3 linked regions of the Homo sapiens genome follow. The protein of the gene in region 2 interacts with the protein of the main gene of each other region in a pairwise test. Each region holds a gene or a part of one and is shown on either strand. Other genes may lie near its edges.

The links.
Region 1: the proteins of HNRNPC (region 2) and RBPMS2 interact in binary tests that used the Homo sapiens proteins (3 or more experiments, as listed by UniProt).
Region 3: the proteins of HNRNPC (region 2) and CDC5L interact in binary tests that used the Homo sapiens proteins (3 or more experiments, as listed by UniProt).

What each region holds. Positions count from the first base shown.
Region 1 is NC_000015.10:64,751,587-64,758,613, reverse strand, and holds part of RBPMS2 (RNA-binding protein with multiple splicing 2), read left to right. Parts: intron 1-6,975; coding exon 6,976-7,027.
Region 2 is NC_000014.9:21,210,436-21,217,462, reverse strand, and holds part of HNRNPC (heterogeneous nuclear ribonucleoproteins C1/C2), read left to right. Parts: intron 1-4,345; coding exon 4,346-4,503; intron 4,504-5,539; coding exon 5,540-5,653; intron 5,654-5,896; coding exon 5,897-6,057; intron 6,058-6,156; coding exon 6,157-6,240; 3' UTR 6,241-7,027. UniProt on the Homo sapiens protein: Binds pre-mRNA and nucleates the assembly of 40S hnRNP particles. Interacts with poly-U tracts in the 3'-UTR or 5'-UTR of mRNA and modulates the stability and the level of translation of bound mRNA molecules. Single HNRNPC tetramers bind 230-240 nucleotides.
Region 3 is NC_000006.12:44,390,682-44,397,708, reverse strand, and holds part of CDC5L (cell division cycle 5-like protein), read right to left. Parts: intron 5,043-7,027; coding exon 4,881-5,042; intron 4,264-4,880; coding exon 4,136-4,263; intron 1,369-4,135; coding exon 1,269-1,368; intron 1-1,268.

The DNA of each region.
Region 1 (7,027 bases), on a different chromosome or scaffold from region 2:
GGCTGGGACCTCCAGCAGGGCTGGGTCTGCTCCTGTGGGGTCATGAGAGCCACACAGCCATGTCTGTGGTATTCTGTATGGGTACACAACCCTGGCCACGTTCCTTGCCTATATTGGTGCTTGCAGCAGGTTCCACCAGAAGGGTTGTTCCTCAACAAGTATCTTTGACTGAGTTCTCAGAATCATCCTCCATCCGTTCCCCCGGTCTCCCCCATACCTGCTCCATGTGACTACAGGTGTACCTTCCAGCTGTGCTGAGGACCTGACTGTGCTCCCAGCATTTCTGCTCTTACTTGCCATAAGGGTGACTTTTTTGGAAGGGCTGTGGTTGCTCTTCACATTTTGGGACAGGAACCCTTGGGTTGCTGGATGCTTCTGCAGAAGGGATGAGAGTATGGAAAAGGGCCCAAGTGAATGCGTTTGGTGCCTTCCAGCAGCCTGAGATTGTGAGAACCACCCCTGTGCACTCTTTAAATGCTTTAAAACGTTTTGTGTATGTGCTGAATTCTTGTAATAAACCCATGGAATAGGCAGGACATGAGTTATTTGGTTGAACTTTCCTTGTCATCAACTAGTTGTCGGTGCCTGAATCCTTGTCTGCATCTAACCTTTTATTTTTTATTTTTGTTTTTTAGAGGTAGGGTCTTGCTCTGTTGTTGCCCAGGCTGGAATTCAAGTGGTGCAATCATGACTCACTGCAGCCTTGAATTCCTGGGCTCAAGCGATGCTCCCACCTCAGCCTCCCGAGTTGCTCAGACTTCAGGTGCCTTCCACCACGCCTGGCTGATTTTTTGTGGGGGGGGATAGGGCCTTGCTATATTGCCCAGGTTGGAGCATCCAGCCTGTTCCTGAATGTTTCCCCTGTTACCCTGACGTAGGTACCACAATGGTCCCCTGTACTGGCCTGAGACACAAGACTAGTTGGCTGGACCTTGGAGAAGTAACTGCATGTCTCTGTTCCTGCCATTGCTGAAAGATCCTGGCTGTGCCATCAGCTTGCCTTGTTACCCTGTTCTTGGCTTCAGTTTCCCCATCTATAAAACGAAGGGGTTGAACTAGCTGATCTCTGTGGTGTCTTCTATTTCGGGCATTACCTCCTCTGGGGAAGAGAAAAACTAAAGAATCTAGTGACCACCTTAGGACATCCTACCCACATTACCAGCTTCAGTAGACAACCTTAATAAGTGGCTCATGGCACCTGATGAGGGAGATCCTTGTGCAGGTAAATGCAGGAGCCCTAAATGAAGCCAGCATTTTATTGCTCTCACAAGTAATGGGGAGAGTAAGGTGAGCTCTTAGTCTTGGAGGTAGATGGTGTTTGTGTTGTGAAGATGAAACTGAGGCCAGGCATGGTGGCTCATACCTGTAATTCCACCACTTTGGGGAGGCCAGGGCAGAAGGATTCTCTGAGCCCAGGAGTTCAAAACCAGCCCAGGCAACATAGTGAGACCTCATCGCTACAAAAATGGAAAAGCTAGCCAGGCATTGTGGTGCACACCTATAGTCCCAGATACTCTGGAGGCTGAGGCAGGAAGATCTCTTGAGCCTAAGAGTTTGATGCTGCAGTGAGCTATGATAGCGCCACTGCACTCTAGCCTGGGAGACAGACCGAGACTCCATTTCCAAAAAAAAAAAAAAAAAAATGAGGCCGGGCATGGTGGCTCGCACTTATAATGCCAGTACTTTGGGAGGCCAAGGCGGGCGGATCACTTGAGGTCAGGGATTCCTGACCTCAAGGAACTCCTTGAGGTGAGGAGACCAGCCTGGCCAACGTGGTGAAACCCTGTCTCTCCAAAAAAAAAAAAAAGAGCTGGGCGTGGTGGCAGACGCCTGTAATTCCAGCTACTTGGGAGGCTGAGGCAGGAGAATCATTTGAACCCAGAGGACAGGGTTGCAGTGAGCAGAGTTTGTGCCACTGCACTCCAGCCTGGGCAACAGAGCGAGACTCCATAAAAAAAAAAAAAAGAAATGAAAAATAAATAAAAATAAGAAACTGAGATTCGGAAAGATGAAGTGGCTTCCTCAGGCCAAGCATGAAGCTAGGAAGCAAACTCCAGTGTAACTAAGGCCTGTTCTCTTTGCCTTTTTTTTTTTTTTGAGACAGGGTCTTGCTCTCCTGCCCAGGATGGAGTGCAATGGTATGATCTCGGCTCACTGCAACCTCCATCTCTCCAGGGTTCAGGGGATTCTCGTGCCTCAGCCTGCCAAGTAGCTGGGACTACAGGTGTGCGCCACCACACCCAGCTAACTTTGTATCTTTAGTAGAGACGGGGTTTCATCATGTTGGCCAGGCTGGTCTCAAGCTCCTGACCGCAAGTGATCCACCCTCCTTGGCCTCCCAAAGTGCTGGGATTACAGGTGTGAGCCACCATGCCCGGCCCTCTCTGCCATTTATGGTATCGTTCTGCCATGCTGGATCGTATCTGGTCTCTGGCTGTGAGTTTCTTCTCTGCAGGGACTGAGGTGTGTAGAGATGGGGGAGGTCTCCAGTGCTTAGACCTGACTCTAGGGACATTGGGAGATGGAAATGTTTTGAGGCTTGGTTCCTGTCTCTAGGGCTTTCTGTAGTCAAGGTGAGGGGTACCTCAGACTGCTGGGAACTATAAGGCGAGGGGTCCTAACGGCCACTGTGGGGCTTCAGAGGAAGGAAAGGGTAGTTGAGGACTCCGGAAAGACCTGAAGGCTGGATACCTTTAGTTAAGGAGTGAGGAAGGGGTGAGCCGAGGGGGCAGTGCAGGCAGCCTTGTGGACGCTTGTCAGGGCCCTGGAGTGGGTGGGCTGGGCGGGCTTGATGGAAGCAGGTGTTGGGCGGCTTTGGAACCTCTTGTTCCTCCCTACATGTGGCTGGTCAGCCTGCGGAGCCCACGCTTCCCCTGCTCCTGGTTTGCCAGTTTCCCCTTTTTCTGCCCTCCTCACTCTGGTGTGGCTGTCATCCTAAACAAGTGTCATACTGAGTGGATGGATGGCAGCACTTACCCACCCATGACGCTGATGAGGCTGCCCTGTGCCGCTCCCCCTGCCCTCACAAACAGCAGAGTCAGGGTGCCTGGTCTCAGGAGCCCTGCTCCTCCGTGAACTCAGCTGTGTGCCGTTGACAAATCACCAAGGCTTTCTGGGTCTCAGTCTCCCTGTCTGTACAAGGGGCTGGGCTTTAAGATGTCATCTGCTGGGGTGGCTGGAATCTAGTAGGAACCAAGGCGGGTGTTTGGGAATCACACTTGCTGTGATTTAGCCTCCCGGACTGCTCCCCACAGAGCATCTGTGCTCAGGCAGACGGGCCCACCAGCTCATCCGTGACTGCCTTGACCACCTGAGAGGTGGCCAGGGACAGGATGGGAGCTGTGGGGTAGCCTTTTGGACTCTATAGAACCTGAAAGATGGAACCCTGAGGAAAAGGGTCATCGGACCCAGAGGGAATCCTGGCTGGAAACGAGTCTTGAGCCAGGATAAGGAAACAGCCCCTACACTCACCCCACCCTACCCCAAGCGGAAACTCTGTGCTGAGAACTTGCTATTTAAGAGGCCTCTGGGGAGGTCTGGCCAGAAAGGAGCCATTTGAGGGAGGGTTTAAAATTAGCCTGGGTGAAATGTGTGGCCCCTGGGGAGAACTGAAGCAGAGGTTTCCGTGGGTCTGCTCTGGTCTGGGTCTTTGACCCAAATCATGTCCTGCTTTCCTGGGGAGGAAGGGGAGGAGAGAAGGGAGTGGTACCGATCTAGGTCCCTCCATCAGGACGCTGGTGGCTGCACTCTTGGCCCATCCTCTGGGGTGAGGTGTTGGAGGCAGACCCTGGGCTACCCAGAGGGCTTGGTGCTCGGGTCCTGTCGTCCTTTCCCAGCACCCAAAGCACCCATCACCTCTGCCAGGCTGGGCACGTAGTAGGAAGACTTGGGTTTTGGGTTTTTTTTTTTTGAGACGGAGTTTTGCTCTTGTTGCTCAGGCTGGAGTGCAGTGGGCCAGGCTGGGCATGTAGTAGGAAGACTTGGGTTTTGGGTTTTTTTTTTGAGACGGAGTTTTGCTCTTGTTGCCCAGGCTGGAGTGCAGTGGTGTGATCTCAGCTCACTGCAACCTCTGCCTCCCGATTCAAGTGATTCTCCTACCTCAGCATCCCTTGTAGCTGGGATTATAGGCATGCGCCACCACACCCAGCTAATTTTGTATTTTTTAGTAGAGACGGGGTTTCTCCATGTTGGTCAGGCTGGTCTTGAACTCCCAACCTCAAGTGATCCACCCACCTCGGCCTCTCAAAGTGCTGGGATTACAGGTGTAAGCCACCACGCCCAGCCTTTTTTTTCTTTTTTTCTGAGATGGAGTCTCACTCTGTCGCCCATGCTGGAGTGCAGTGGTGCGATCTTGGCTCACCACAACCTCTGCCTCCTGGGTTCTAGTGATTCTCTTGCCTCAGCCTCCGAAGTAGCTGGGACTGCAGGGATGGGCCACCACACCTGGCTAATTTTTTGTATTTTTAGTAGAGATGGGGTTTTACCACGTCGGCCAGGCTGGTCTCAAACTCTTGACCTCAAGTGATCCACCCGCCTCAGCCTTCCAAAGTGCTGGGGTTACAGGCATGAGCCACTGCACCTGGCCGAGGCCTGGGTTTTGAGTTCCAGGTCTGCTGCCTTTAAAGAACAAGCCATGTGACCTTGGACAAGTCACTTCTGCTTGGGGATTCACACGCACACCTCAAGGCCCTTACATCAAAGGGCAGAGAGGCCTGCTGGGCTCAGGTCAGGAGCTCGGTTTCACCCATCCTGGATCCTTGGCTATCCAGACCCCCAGATGCTGCCAACAACAAAGCAGGATTCGAGTGGTGTCTCCGTGGGACATGAGCTGCCAGGGCTGTGAGGTGTGAGGTGCCATCACCCCAACCCCGGGCACAGAGGCTGGTATAGTGGTGCCTCTACTGAGGGGAAGACGTGTCCCAAGGGAGAAGATGCGTCCCAAGCGGCCCGAGATTCTGCTGAATGGGCTTGGCAAAAGCTCACGTGAGGTTTGTCTTCACCATGGCTGAGAGTCAAAGTTTAAGAGACAAAGTTTGTCTTCACCGTGGCTGAGAGTCATTCTTGCGTGGGTGGGAGTGGTGACACCAGTAACCAGCAGCTATCCTGGCTGATTTCCTTTGACATTCTTGGCTCTGTTGAGTTCTCTGGGTGCATTGGGTGTAGTTTTACCTAACATTGCTCCAGCTTCCTGAGACAAGCCACTGATAAAAGCCATCGTCTCAGAAAGGCTGTTGTCTGGGGTCAGCGGGCCATCACTAGAGAGCGGAGCAAGTTCTTTGGTACCTCTCAAGAAGGGGATGTGGCCCACTGTAGGGCAACTTAATGCTTTCAAGAATGGCCGCGTGATGGGGTGAGGCATGTGAACTTCTAAAATCTGCAGCGGTGAGTTCAGAAGACCTGTGCTTGGCTTCGCAGGAGGAGATGTGGCCCAGAGCAGGAGTCAAGCGTGTAGGGACGCTCTGCTTGTTCACATTTTTCATTATTCAGGAAGCCACGGTTTCAAAAAATGTTTTGAATGGATCTAAGCTATGGAAAGTCTCCCCTTCCCCATCACAATTTTTGGCTGATCAGGGCTTGCTAGTTTAGCATCCGGTGCCAGCAGCGTTTAAATAGCAGCAGTGGCTACAGTCACAGGATGGACACCTAGTGTTTAGATCTGGCTTGTAACCATGTTGGGGGCAATGCTCAAAATTCACAGCATCAGCCGGGCACGGTGGCTCAATCCTGTCATCTCAGCACTTTGGGAGGCCGAGGTGGGCGGATCACTTGCGGTCAGGAGTTCGAGACCAGCGTGACCAATGTGGTGAAACCCCATCTCTACTAAAAATGCAAAGAATTAGCTGGGCATGGTGGTGCATGCATGTAATCCCAGCTACATGGGAGGCTGAGGCAGGAGAATCGCTTGAACCGGGGAGGCAGAGGTTGCAGTGAGCCGAGATGGCGCCACTGCACTCCAGTCCGGGTGACAGCAAAACTCCATCTCAAAAAAAAAAAAACTCACAGCATCAAATGCTTCACCTGAAGCTGGCAAGATCTTAGCGTGTTCTTCAAAACTCAGCATAATGGTTTTGACTGTTTACCCATTACCCTGTTCAGTCAACATTTAGTACCATCACCATGCTAAGAGCAGGCAGAGAGGCAGGAGTATAAGGTGTTTCTTGACATTGAAGGTCCCACATCTCGTGTAGGAGCAGGAGATGGATGAGAAAGTGCCGGGCCCTCTGTTGAAATCACTGCAGGGGATAGTGGGCATGGGACTCTGTTTCCTTTACATCTTTGCTCCTCCCCTCGACCAGACTGGAGGCTCTCTACCAGGAGGCCATGGGTATCATCTAGAAAACAGATACTTTTTTGTCTGAGGGGCCAGTGGTGCAATGGATTAAAAAAATAGATACATTTTTACATGTACATTTTTGGGGGGTCAGGCACTGCAGCTTTCTTCAGATTTTTAGAGGAGGCTTTGGTTTGAAAAGGCATACCGATTAGCATGGCGTGGTGGTGTACCCCAGTAATCCCAGCTACTCAGGAGGCTGAGGCAGGAGAATCTCTTGAACCCAGGAGGTGGAGGTTGCAGTGAGCTGAGATCACGCCACTGCAGTTTAGCCTGGGCAACAGAGTAAGACTCTGTCTCAAAAAAAAAAAAGAAAAAAAAAAAGGCATGCTGGGCTGGGTTTGTACCCTTATCAAACAGGGCTTTCTTTTTGCCTCTGTTCACCAGCAGACTCAGTCTGTGTGCAGAGGCATCCGGCAGACGCAGCACGATGCCTCTGGGATGTACCCAGAGAAAGGAAAGGGCTTTGAGAAATTGAGTGCTGTGAAACAATGTTAATTTGCCTTGGGTATCCAAGGAGGCCCAGGAAAGGCTGAATTCCTCTAAGCTCTAGAAGGATTCCAGTTGCCTGCCTGAAGGAAGCGCTGTTGTCATCCCTGTCCGTCTTGGGCAGCCTGGCCCTGATCACTGGTCTCTGTCTCCAGGTCCGGACACTGTTTGTCAGCGGCCTCCCTGTGGACATTAAACCCAGAGAAC
Region 2 (7,027 bases):
ATGTGGTGAATACCTTGTATAGCTCCAGTGGTGAGCAAATGAGCATACTGGTTTACCATTTAGTCGTTTTATATTTTAAATGAGTGGTGCTTGCAGTTGATAGTATCCGGGTAAACTGATGCTAGACTAAGACAGCATGTTTGTGGTGAAGTACTTGCAAATAACATTAGAAATCATTGATTTCAGTTTAGAAATAAAACACAAGCTACAAAAATTTTGCTGGTTGATTTATTTTTAAGCACAAAATCAAGAATTCCAACTATGTTACGAACATTTTGAGGCAAGGACTACTTCCTCAGATGTGAATGAGAGTCCATTTCTGCCTGAGCAGCATTCTTTGTAACTAAAAGCCCCACCGGCTGAAATATTTTGAAATATTTTTCTTCAGAAAAGTAGAGAATTTGACTCCTAATTGTGTTCATGGGACTGTTAACATAGATTCAAAACAGAACTATTACTTGCTTCATTTTGGCTATGGTCAGATGAAATAGTAGGTTTTAAAAGGAAATTCCAGTGATAGTACGGAACTAGCTAGCTAGCTAGTTTAACGGATTTATTGTTTTCGGTCACAATTTGACATATTGTTATTTAAATTTTAATGTAAACCTGTGTTAAACTTTTTTATATCAGTTTTTTTATCTACATAGTTAAGTTTGAGGCAGATGTCTGTCATCAGTTGGTAGTTCATTTAACTAGTATTTACTGGAGATAGAATGGAAAAAACTGCTCCTTTGGTTCTCTTAATTTTTGTTTTGTGACGGAGTCTTACTCTGTGATCCATGCCGGAGTGCAGTGGTGGGATCTTGACTCATTATGAACTCCGCCTGTTAGGTTCAAGCGATTGTTGTCCCTCAGCCCCCGGAGTACCTGAGATTATAGGAATGTGCCACCACACCTGGATAATTTTTTCTATTTTTAGTAGACACTGGGTTTCACCATGTTGGTCAGGCCCGTCTCCATGTCCTGGCCTCAAATGAGCCGCTCGCCTTAGCCTCCCAAAGTGCTGGGATTACAGGTGTGAGCCACCCTGTCCGGCAAAACAGATTATTTCAATCTGTTCACATTTTTAAGATGAGAATCAGCTGTGGTCCATTAAATGGTCCATGTACCAAATGATAGCTTTATTATTAATAGATTAACGTCTACTCTGGTGTAGTGTTGACATGTATTACTAGGTTTTTTGAGACCCAGGAAATGTCACTGTTTGCAGCTAATGTCTTATGGTCAGAATTTCCATTTAAGAAGCTTCCCTTTGAAAACCTCTTCTTAGTACATGTCTTGTAATGCTTTTACTTTGGAATTGGGGTAGACATTCTTTGTCTTTTTTTTTTTTTTTTTTTTTGGTGGTGGAGGAGACAAAAGTTTTTACTCTGTCGCCCAGGCTGGAGTGCAATGGCTGTCTGCAACCCCCACTTCCTTCCTGGGTTCAAGCAACTCTCGTGCCTCAGCCTCCTGCGTAGCTGGGATTACAGGTGTGCCACTGCATCCAGCTGGTGTGTTTTGTTGTTTTTTTTTTCTTTTTCTTTTCCTTTTCTTTCTTTCTTCCTTTCTTTTTTTTTTTTTTAAGACGGAGTCTTGCTCTGTCACTGAGGCTGGAGTACAGTGGAATGATCTCAGCTCACTGCAACCTCTGCCTTCCAGATTCAAGCAATTCTTCTGCCTCAGCCCTCCTGAGTAGCTGGAATTACAGGCGTGTGCCACCATGCCCGGCTAATTTTTGTATTTTTAGTATACACGGGGTTTCCCCATGTTGGTCAGGCTGGTCTCAACTCGTAACCTCATGATCCACCTGCCTCCGCCTCCCAAAATGTTGGGATTACAGGCATGAGCCTCCACACCTGGCTGGTGTATTTTGTCTTAATCTGTTCAGGTGATTAATGTCTCTAGAGTGTTTTAATTTCTTAATCTGACTAGATTTTATACCAACACCATCAAGTTTGATTATGGGTGCAGTTACAATTCTCCTAGGGTTTAGTCCTTGTTCCCCTGGTAAAAGATTTTAAACAGCCTAGCCTTAATCAGTAAGTAATCAGCTATTGTTGCCTCATCTATTGTATAGCTTTCTCATAGTGAGAATTTCCGCTTAATTTTTAGCTGGTGCTTGAAGTAGTCATACTGAGCTTCTTAATATATATCCCTTTTAACTTAAAGGTTGTCACACTATGTATGTTTTTTTTCTATTTTCACACTTACCGTCCTCAACATTTTTCGAGGCAAGGACTACTTCCTCAGATGTGAATGAGAGTCCATTTCTGCCTGAGCAGCATTCTGTGTAACTAAAAGCCTTAACTGGCTGAAATATTTTGAAATATTTTTCTTCAGAAAAGTAGAGAATTTGACTCCTAATTGTGTTCATGAGACTGTTACATAGATTCAAAACAAAACTGTATTACTTGCTTTATTTTGGCTGTGGTCAGACGAAATAGTAGGTTTTAAAAAGAAATTCCAGTGATAGTACAGAACTAGCTAGCTAGCTCATTGGTTTAGATACGGGTGCCGGTGAAGGTTTGTGGCTTAGGAGGTAGATTAGATATTTATTTCCATTGGACTGAGGCTTAAGCTCAGTTTAATGCTCATGGATATGGATAACTTATTTTGATTCACCTCCAGAAATTGTCGTTAAGCAATTTGTGTTTGTGCAAGTGTTACCATCTCTCACAAAGGATATGAGTTTCTGAACACTGATATTTTATAGTTTCTGTATCATTATACTTTGCAAGATTTTGGTCAAAAAGACCAAAAGCTTTATGTCAAAATGGGAAAGTAGTGATAATAAAAAGTTACTCAGTATCTTTTTCTTTGCATTAATTCCCATGAATGGATTAAACTAAGAGATTAACCATACTTAGGGGAAATGCAAACTTTTTTCTGTTTTCTTTTTTTTTGAGACAGTGTTGCTCTGTTCCGCATGAGTGCAGTGGTGCAGTCATGGTTCTCTCACCTCCTGGGCTCAACCTGTCTTTCCATCTCAGCTTTCCTTGCTCTTTTAATTTAGGAAAATGTTCCTGTCCATAGCCACTCCTGGGACAAGATTAAACATTGCTTTGTTGAAATAGTGTGGAAACACTTTTAAGTTAACAGAGGAGAGAATTAGCAATGAGATCTTGTAAATGTTTTCACTACAGGAAGATTGGAGATATTACAACTCAGAATAACTTGCCACTATTGTATATATATAAGAGGGAGAATCATGACAAAGGTGATTAATAATATTTTTAAAGTTCTTGACTATCACATTTGTTTTTTAAGAAATATTTGGAGTTAGAACAGTTGGTAGGTGTATTTTTATAGAGTACCTGGGCCTTTGCATTAAGTTAGTTGCATTTTTAAAAAGCTTGCAGAATTGAAGACCTTTTCATACGTTGCCATAGGTTCTTATATGGAAATGACAATGTGGAATGTAGAAAGTTTAGAACTGATGTCCATGTAAGAAGTATTTTGTTCTGTTTTGAATTTTCTCTTTACAAATGTAAGTGTACCAAGCCACTGCTTTGGTGTATCTTTATCAATCACTGGGATACTAAGTTTAAGACATTTGAAATTAAGATTTCTAATAGAAACAGCAATTAGTTGAGCAACCAGTGTTTATTGAGTGCTAAGTGTGTACTGGCCAGTGAATTTAGACATAGGTGAGTAGTGAACAAGATAGACAGTGGTCTCTGCCCTGTTGGAATTAAGCGTAAATTTAGTTAGAAATGATACTACCTGTTTTTATATGAGGTATTTTTTATCAGTAGTATTTATACCCAGCCAACACATTTTGCTATGATTCCCTCAGTTACATGAAATTGCCCTGATTTTATAGATCTGAAATTTTATATGGTTCAACCTTATATCACTAGTTGTAATAATTCGTGTGCTTCTGTGGGTGAAAAGAATCAGAGATTTCGCTAATGCCATATACCACTGTTTATATACCCTTTTAATTGGAACATTTTAAAGAGTATTTGACCGTATGTGAATTGTTTATTGTAATGTATATTTGAAAATAATAAGATCCAAAGGCTATTCATTATAATAAATGCCCTGTTAATACTGACACTAGTACAGAGGAATCATTTATATCCAGTGCCAAAGGCCAGCCAACCATATAATTTGATATATGTTTTATTTTCCTGAGGAAAAGTTGCTACAGTATTACAACTATTTTATGTGCCTAGGTAAAGAAATAATGGGATAAGATTTCTAAACCCCACTGTGGAGGTTTTTGCTGGCCTTCTTAATGAAATTTAATAAAAGGAAACGACTAGAGACAATATTCACTTACTATTTATCATAAGGTCTGTTGAATTGTGCTGAGTTAATGTTAGGTTTGAATGAATTCCATTTTCCTCTTATCCAATAGGATGTACAGTTACCCAGCACGTGTACCTCCTCCTCCTCCTATTGCTCGGGCTGTAGTGCCCTCGAAACGTCAGCGTGTATCAGGAAACACTTCACGAAGGGGCAAAAGTGGCTTCAATTCTAAGAGTGGACAGCGGGGATCTTCCAAGTCTGGAAAGTGTATGTATTATTTCATTTTGTGATTTTGGTATCTCTTGTGTTTTGAGATAGGGAAGCTAATGCAGTTACAATATTTTTGTGCCACATGACTTTGTGTATTCAAAATAATGGAAGAGGCTGGGTGTGTGGTGGCTCATGCCTGTAATCCCAGCACTTTGGGAGGCCCAGCGGGTGGATCAGCTGAGGTCAGGAGTTCAAGACCAGCCTGTCCAACATGGAGGAACCCCATCTCTACCGAAAATACAAAAAATTTGCCGGGGATGGTGGTGCGTGCATGTAATCCCAGCTAATTGGGAGGCTGAGGCAGGAGAATCGCTTTTACCCAGGAGGCGGAGGTTGCAGTGAGCCGAGATCATGCCATTGCACTCCAGCCTGGGTGACGAGCAAAACTCCATCTCAAGAAAAAAAAAAAAATCCAAAATAACAGAGGAGACAAGATTGTGATTGAGTGGCCAATTCTAGACTGCAACAGCTAGGTAATTTAAAAAATGTCATTTGACTTTATGTAGTTGAGGTGTGCGTTAAGTTCCTGAGATTTTTTTGTGTTATTTAAAAACTAAAATTCAGACAGTGTTCAGTATGTTGATTTTTTTTAACTTTTCTATATTGAACTCCTCCTGTAACTGGAAATATGGAAGGCAGTAAAACATTACAGAAGGTCTGATGCAGTGGTGCGTGCCTGTAGCCCCAGATGCTTAGGGGGAGGCTAAGACCCTGGGGATCTAGGCTGTAGTGGGAGGATTTCATGAGGCCAGGAGTTTAAGTTCACTGTGATCATACGTGTGAATAGTCACTGTCCTCAGGCCTGGTCAACATAGCGACAGCCCTGATCTAAAAGACATTAAAAACAATAAAAACCATTACAGAACGTGCTTTATAATAGAACCAAGGGCCTTTATTACCGAGAAATCTGTACTGGCTCTGTTTCTCCCTGGGTATCTCCTGTGAGCTCCTGATGTAGTCTGGTGGCAGTGTATTTGCTAACTCATATCTTCGGTACATTTGATTTTAATCTAGTATTTTGTTTATATTAAAGTGAAAGGAGATGACCTTCAGGCCATTAAGAAGGAGCTGACCCAGATAAAACAAAAAGTGGATTCTCTCCTGGAAAACCTGGAAAAAATTGAAAAGGAACAGAGCAAACAAGCAGGTAAATGGGTTTTCTGCTTGCCCTTGGTATACAGTTGGGTTAGTTACATAAGGCACTTGAAAGTACATGTTGGAATAGTGGAATATAAAGCAATGTAATATGAAACTTGGGGAGTGTGAATTGGGAAGGGTATTTGTGTGGGAGGATTTAGATTTGTGCTGCAGTTCTGTGATCCTTAGTGGGGATTGTCTACGTCCTGTGGACATTACTGCCCCTAGACAGACTTGTCCTTCTCATCCGCAGTAGAGATGAAGAATGATAAGTCAGAAGAGGAGCAGAGCAGCAGCTCCGTGAAGAAAGATGAGACTAATGTGAAGATGGAGTCTGAGGGGGGTGCAGATGACTCTGCTGAGGAGGGGGACCTACTGGATGATGATGATAATGAAGATCGGGGGGATGACCAGGTGAAAACCACGGGAAAGGAAAGAAAAAGGTGGTGGAGGGGGGCTCAGGGACACATGGAGTGCCTCTAACTCCATCCTGTTTGTGTCTGTTTCTCACAGCTGGAGTTGATCAAGGATGATGAAAAAGAGGCTGAGGAAGGAGAGGATGACAGAGACAGCGCCAATGGCGAGGATGACTCTTAAGCACATAGTGGGGTTTAGAAATCTTATCCCATTATTTCTTTACCTAGGCGCTTGTCTAAGATCAAATTTTTCACCAGATCCTCTCCCCTAGTATCTTCAGCACATGCTCACTGTTCTCCCCATCCTTGTCCTTCCCATGTTCATTAATTCATATTGCCCCGCGCCTAGTCCCATTTTCACTTCCTTTGACGCTCCTAGTAGTTTTGTTAAGTCTTACCCTGTAATTTTTGCTTTTAATTTTGATACCTCTTTATGACTTAACAATAAAAAGGATGTATGGTTTTTATCAACTGTCTCCAAAATAATCTCTTGTTATGCAGGGAGTACAGTTCTTTTCATTCATACATAAGTTCAGTAGTTGCTTCCCTAACTGCAAAGGCAATCTCATTTAGTTGAGTAGCTCTTGAAAGCAGCTTTGAGTTAGAAGTATGTGTGTTACACCCTCACATTAGTGTGCTGTGTGGGGCAGTTCAACACAAATGTAACAATGTATTTTTGTGAATGAGAGTTGGCATGTCAAATGCATCCTCTAGAAAAATAATTAGTGTTATAGTCTTAAGATTTGTTTTCTAAAGTTGATACTGTGGGTTATTTTTGTGAACAGCCTGATGTTTGGGACCTTTTTTCCTCAAAATAAACAAGTCCTTATTAAACCAGGAATTTGGAGAAAAAAAAAACCCTGGTTTTTTATTTTTGTATTTTATTATTGTTTACTTCAAACTTTGTTTTACAGCGTCCTCCACAAAACCTCTAGAATGCACTAGATATATTTTTCTTGGAGTCATAA
Region 3 (7,027 bases), on a different chromosome or scaffold from region 2:
TCCTGTTTCACAGCCAGTGCCTTCCCAATACCAATCAAGGAAAGTAACTAATTGGCAGTCATACAAAAGACACATAATCTTGTGTGTCCTACAGTCATCTGACTCCAAAATAGCTACAACAAATGAAGCTCTCATATGCCAACAGAACACACTCAACATACTGGATAAACTGGGCATTACCTCTGCCATAGCTTCAATTTTTTTTAAATATGGTTTTCTATAAATATTCTGAAATGGTTGGGGGAAAAAAATACAAGATAGTTTCAGAGAAATAAAGAAGGTAAAGAATACTAGCGAAATAGGAACTGGACAATTCCAATTATTATTCACCCAACGGGTTAATAAATCATGCAGTTTTATTGGTCCTAAGGATGCCTAGACTAATTATTGAACTATGAATGGAGACAAGCACACATTGTGAAATAATGTATTTGGTCTTCATCCGTTTCCAACAATGCAACTCCTAAAATCCTGGGACTCTTCCAAGTGAAAAGTGTCTTTCTGCATGTTAATGAGTTGACTGATAGCTGGCAGTCACCAGAAAGACCACGGCAGGATTAGAGGGCTTGGGACTTTCAGCCACAACCCCCAACCTCAGGGGAGGGGAGAAGGGCTGAAGGTCGAGTTGATAAGCAATGGCCAATGATGTAATCAATCTTGCCTATTTAATGAAGCCTCCATAAAAACCCAAAAGGACAGAGTCTGGAGAACTTGTGGGCAGCCAAATACATGGGGGCTTCCGAAAAGGTGAACAAGAACACACCCACTGGCTGGGAGGGTGGCATATCCCAACTTCAATGGGACATAAGCACCTGCACTCAGGACCCTTCCAGGCTTCACCCTGTGTATCTCTTCATGGGGCCGTTGATTTGTATCCTTTAAAATATCCTTTGTAAATGTGGGTGTTTCCCTGAGTTCTGTGAGTCCTCTAGCAGATGAATGGAACCCAAGGAAGGGGCAGTGGAACCCAGCTCGCTGGTCAGAAACACAAGCAAAATAACCTGGGGTTTAGGGTCAGCATCAAAACTGGGGTTCAGTCTTGTGGGACTAAGTCCTCAACCTGTAAGATCTGGAGCTATCTCCAGGTAGACAGTATTAGAGTTAACTGAATTAGAGGACACCCAGCTATCCACTGCAGAATTGATTGCCTGATTGCTGGTGGAGAGGGGAAAAAAAAAAAAAAACCACATATCTGGTCACAGAAGTATTCTGTGTTGATTGTTATGTGAGAAAAACACTTTGCTTTTTATTCCTATATCCACACATACCTTGCTTCTTCCAATTGTTTCTCTCTTGCTTTCCTCTTGGCCTTCTTTCCCTGAGTATTAGCCAAGCGGGCTCTGGCTTCAGAAAGCATCTCAAGTTCATCTGCAAAAATTAAAAGAAGAAAAACTAAGTATTTTCTTAGTTCTTACATACTCTAGAAGCAAGGTATGTAAGAGACACTCTATTGCTCAAAATGAGAAAAAAACATAAAAATACTGATTTTATGGTGTAGCATAATGGAAACAGCTTGAGTTTTGAAGTCAAAGAACCTAGGTTAAAAACCAGGCCCACCACTTGCTAGCTATGTGACCTTAGTCACTTACTTACCCTCCCTAAGCATGGTTTCCCTATAAAATTCGAATAACAATTCCTATTTCACAAGGATTTTGAGAAGGGCTAAGTAAAACGAAATATGTAAAGCATCTCGCAAGCATTCATTAAACAGTGGCTACAATTATTGTATCCTTCATTATTATCAACTAACTGGCACAGCACAAATTGTGAAATAGGGTAAAAACTATTTAATTATGAGAGAACAACTATCATTAGATACTTTTTTTTCCCCTCAGAACAATTTCTCTCATCCAATACATTTTTCGTGGCTCTATAGAATGGAATAATACATGCCACTATTGATGCCTTAGAACAATTCCTATGCAAGGCTGTCCAACTAAATCACATGGGAACTTGTAAAATACTCAGATTCCAAGATCACTGCTCTTCCCGTGCCTCCCACACCACCCCAGATGTACTGACTCAGTATATACAGGAGAAGCCCTGATATTTCTATTTTTAAATGCTCCCCCTGTGATAATGATGCAGCCAGCCTAGCCACAGCCTGCCTTTGGGAACCACTATGTTCAAACTTTACATTTTAGAAACTTAACAAATATTCACTGAGTGCTTCACAACAACCCTGCTAAGGTAAAGCAGGTATTAGTATTCCCCATCTCGCAAGAAAGGGAATCAAAGCTCAGAGAGATTTTATGACTTGTCTAAGGTCAAACAGCTAATAGGTGGCACACACGGGTTGAAAATCCAATTCCTGATTCTGTTAACTGATACATCATACTTTACATATTTATAGGGTACATGTGAGAGTTTGTTACATGCATAGAATGTGTAATGATCAAGTCAGTATATCTGGGGTACCCATCACCTTGAGTATTTATTTCAGACCTCTCTTCCAGCTACTTTGAAATATGTAATACACTGTTGCTAACTATAGTCACCCTATTCTGCTATCAAACATTATAACTTATTTCTTTCCATCTACGTTTGTACCCATTAACCAACCTCTCTTAATCCCGCTCTCCCACCCACACACCATACCCAGCCTCTGGCATCTATCACTCTATTCTAACTCCATGAGATCAACGCTTTTAGCTCCCACATATGAGGAAGAATATGCAGTATTTGTCTCTCTGTGCCTGGCTTATTTCACTGAACATAATGACTTCTACTGCCATCCATGTTGCTGCAAATGACATGATTTCATTGCTTTTTATGACCAAATAGTATTCGTGTGTGTGTGTGTGTGTGTGTGTGTGTATACCATTTTTTTTTTTTTTTTTTTTTTTTTTTTTTGAGACAGGGTCCTGCTCTGTTGCCCAGGCTGGAGTGCAGTGCTTGATCTCAGCTCATGGCAAACCCAGCCTCCCGGGCTCAAGTGATTCTCCCACCTCAGCCTCCCCAGTAGCTGGATCTACAGGCATGCGCCACCACACCTGGCTAATTTTTGTATTTTTTTATAGAGGCAGGGTTTCACCATGTTGGCCAGGCTGATCTTGAACTCCTGGGCTCAAGTGATCTGCCCACCTCAGCCTCCCAACGTGCTGGGATTACAGGCGTGAGCCACCATGCCCAGTCCACATTTTCTTTATCCATTCACCCATTAATGGACACTTAGGTTGATTCCATATACTTTCTATTGTGGAATTCCTGATTCAATGCCTCCCAGAATCACTGTTAAGTCTCCATCACCGTCTCACAGGTTGCCTTCTCACACAGAATAAATAACTTGCCTATAGTCAAATAAGTAATTAATAGGAGGACTGAGGTCCAATATTCTGACTTGATGTCTCTCTCCATGGAATAGGAATGAGAAACAGGATCTTCAAGGGCTCACCTCTAGCCTCTGAAAAATCTACTCAGTAGAATTACACTACTCAGTTTTAAAGACAGGGTCTCGTTATGCTGCCCAGGCTGGCCTCCAACTTCTGGGCTCAAGGGGTTATGTTGCCCAGACTGGCCTCCAACTCCTGGGCTAAAGAGATCGACCCACCTCAACTTCCTTAGCAGCTAGCACTACAGGCACATACCACCACACCCCGTAACACTTAATTAACTTAATTAACTGAATTGAAGAAACAGAAGATGAAGGGGCGCTGTTCAGAAAAAGCAACTACTCTATAACAGAAAACACTGGACATATTTGGAAAGATACTTAGAATAAGAACACTGCTGACAGAATTGGGGATCAGGTATGGTGGCTCACACCTATAATCTCAACACTTTTGGAGGCAGAAAAGGGAGGATAGCTTAAGCCCAGGAGTTTGAGACCAGCCTGGGTAACACAGGGAGACCCCATCTCTACAAAAAAATTTAAAAATTAGCCAGGTATGGCGGCATAAACCTGTAGTCCCAACTACTCAGGAGGCTGAGATGGGAGGATTGCTTAAGCCCAGGAGGTCAAAACCGCAGTGAACCATGATTGTGCCACTTCATTCCAGCCTGGGTAACAGAGCAAGACCTTGTCTCAAAAAAAAAAGGGATTCTAAAGTAGAGGAGTTCAGAAAGGAACTAAAAGAGTGAGGCCCAAGGAGTTTACAGTTACCAAAGAAATAAATTCCTCAAAGCATACACTTACCCTCATCCATATCAATTGGATCAGGCCGCGCTGGTTTTGTTTCTGGATTTGGATCTATTTCTCCAGGTTTAAGTTTTCGTGGATCATCTGTTGTTTCCTCTTCATTGTCTCTTTGGGCAGCTTTATCCCTAGAAAAAAGCCCATAGGAGTTAGTCACACTACAGTACCATTTAGAGTTAAAATTACCAGATTTCCAAGTTCTGACGATATTTTTCCCCCCAAAAAAACCAATGGATGGGCTTTAACAACATAAAGCCTTTTTACTATCACTTCATCTGAAAGAAATGATATTAAAATTTGCTGATTTCAGTGACTGGTTTCAATCACTCTAAAATAGAACCCAAACAGATCCTAATCACAAATGCGGTACAGCCATACAAATTTAAAAAAAAAAAAAAAAAAAAAAAAACTATTAGTAAAGAACCAAAATGTTCCAGTAGTTAATTCTTAGCAGTGTGATTATGGGTGACTTTTATTTGCTCTTTTACTATTTTTTCCCCAGATTTTCTATGATGAACATGCATGACTTGTATAATTCTTTTAAATTATTATTTTAGGAAGTATATGACAGAAGGCATAATTTTGATCAACCATCTGAGATATGGAAAATATTATCCAATGGCTTTAGCTTTGGGTTTACTCACATCCATAATTAAAAGTTTAAAGACAGAAAATACTCAAAGTTTATTCAGCCTCTTTCAGAACATATACATATATTCTATGCTCTTTCTGAAGACTCACTTACAGAAGAAATTCATAGTGTTCTAAGCACTGGGCCGCTGTTCTTCCAATGATTGGAGCAATGGTCCTCCACTGAGTTGGCATCAACTTGGCCAAGTGCAAGAGTTTTTCCTCTTCTTCTCTGGACCATTCTGTCTTCTTAATGCTTGGATCCAGCCATTCATACCTATTAAACATAGATCATTTTATATATTAATCAGTTACCTGGCATAAATATCCAATTTGCACAATGGATACACTGACTTGTGCTCTCATCCTTCAATTACAAAAACTGTTCTTTTTGACAACAGAATATTTGCTGTGTGGTTACACTTACCCCAGTCAATATTCCCCATCTCATCACATTCTATTTTATTTTAATTATGCAAGATTAGTAATGGTTAAAAAAGGTTACTTCACTGAATCATGATCATAAGCCTTCTTTCTCATCTATCATGTTTTTATTTATTTACGCTTTTCTAGAAATTTTGAAATATTTGGAAGACAATACAAAATCACGTTTCTTACAGTGTTTCCAGTTTTCATACTATTTTCTCATGCTTTGATTCTCACACCATGGCTTATTTCTTTAAGCATTTGACTTACACTCACTAAATTCACCGTAACCTTTCATTTGATATGTTTTAAAATTTAAGTAAAACTACTATGACATTCCCTCTGTCTTTCCTAATTCCCCACCCAGCCCACCTTTTCCATCCAGTCTACTTAGCTGGATGACAGGCAGGCAAACAGGACTTAAGTCCTACCAAATATGACAGCAGGAACTGGTACCACTAAGACAAACAGAAATCAGAACGACTTCTTCAGCCTAAAAATCATCTTCCTCTTAACAGCCAATTTCTACATTCAAAAAGCCTCACTCTGTCGCCCAGGCTGGAGTGCAGTGGCAGCATCTCAGCTCACTACAACCTCCACCTCCTGGGTTCAACCGATCCTCCCACCTCAGCCTCCCAAGTAGCCACCACGCCTGGCTAATTTTTGTACTTTTAGAAGAGACGGGGTTTTCACCATGTTGGCCAGGCTGGTCTCAAACTCCTGACCTCAGGTGATCCCAGCCTTGGCCTCCCGAAGTGCTAGGCTTACAGATGTGAGCCACCACGCCTGGCCAATTTCTACATTCTGATACTTTCCCCTAACCAGGTGCCTAGGAAATTAGGTCATTCTTATACAATCCAAAGTATTTTCCTAATGCCACATGACTTGGGGATGGTGCTAAATAACTCATGCCAAGAACACCCTAAATAGCTTCACGTGTCCACTACCCTATGATTTAAGAGGTGACACCAGCCGGGCGCGGTGGCTCACGCCTGTAATCCCAGCACTCTGGGAGGCCGAGGTGGATGGATCACGAGGTCAGGAGATCAAGACCATCCTGGCTAACACGGCGAAACTCCGTCTCTACTAAAAATACAAAAAATTAGCCGGGAATGGTGGCAGGAGCCTGTAGTCCCAGCTACTCAGGAGGCTATGGCAGAAGAATGGCGTGAACCCGGGAGGCAAAGCTTGCAGTGAGCTGAGATCACGCCACTGCACTCCAGCCTGGGCGACAGAGCAAGACTCCGTCCCAAAAAATAAAAATAAAAAAGAGGTGACACCACAGGTTCAGAGTTGGCTTATATCTTTTAATATATATAACATATTAAATATGTTTAATATATACAATATATAACATATTAAATATGTTTAATATATAATATATAACATATTAAATATGTTTAATATATAATATATAACATATTAAATGTTTAATATATAATATATAACATATTAAATATGTTTAATATATAATATATAACATATTAAATATGTTTAATATATAATATATAACATATTAAATATGTTTAATATATAATATATAACATATTAAATATGTTTAATATATAATATATAACATATTAAATATGTTTAATATATAATATATAACATTAAGTATGTTTAATATATAATATATAACATATTAACTATAAAATATATAATATTTCAACTGTATTATGAGGAAACTCAACTACTGTAGGCTTACTTAGAAAATTAGCCATTATTTATCATTTATTTCTTTGAGCAAGTAATTTCTAAAACAGCTAACTTATGCACTTTTAGAACACAATTAATTTACAAGCTGGGGCTCATCTGTCCCTGAAAGTAGACTTTGTA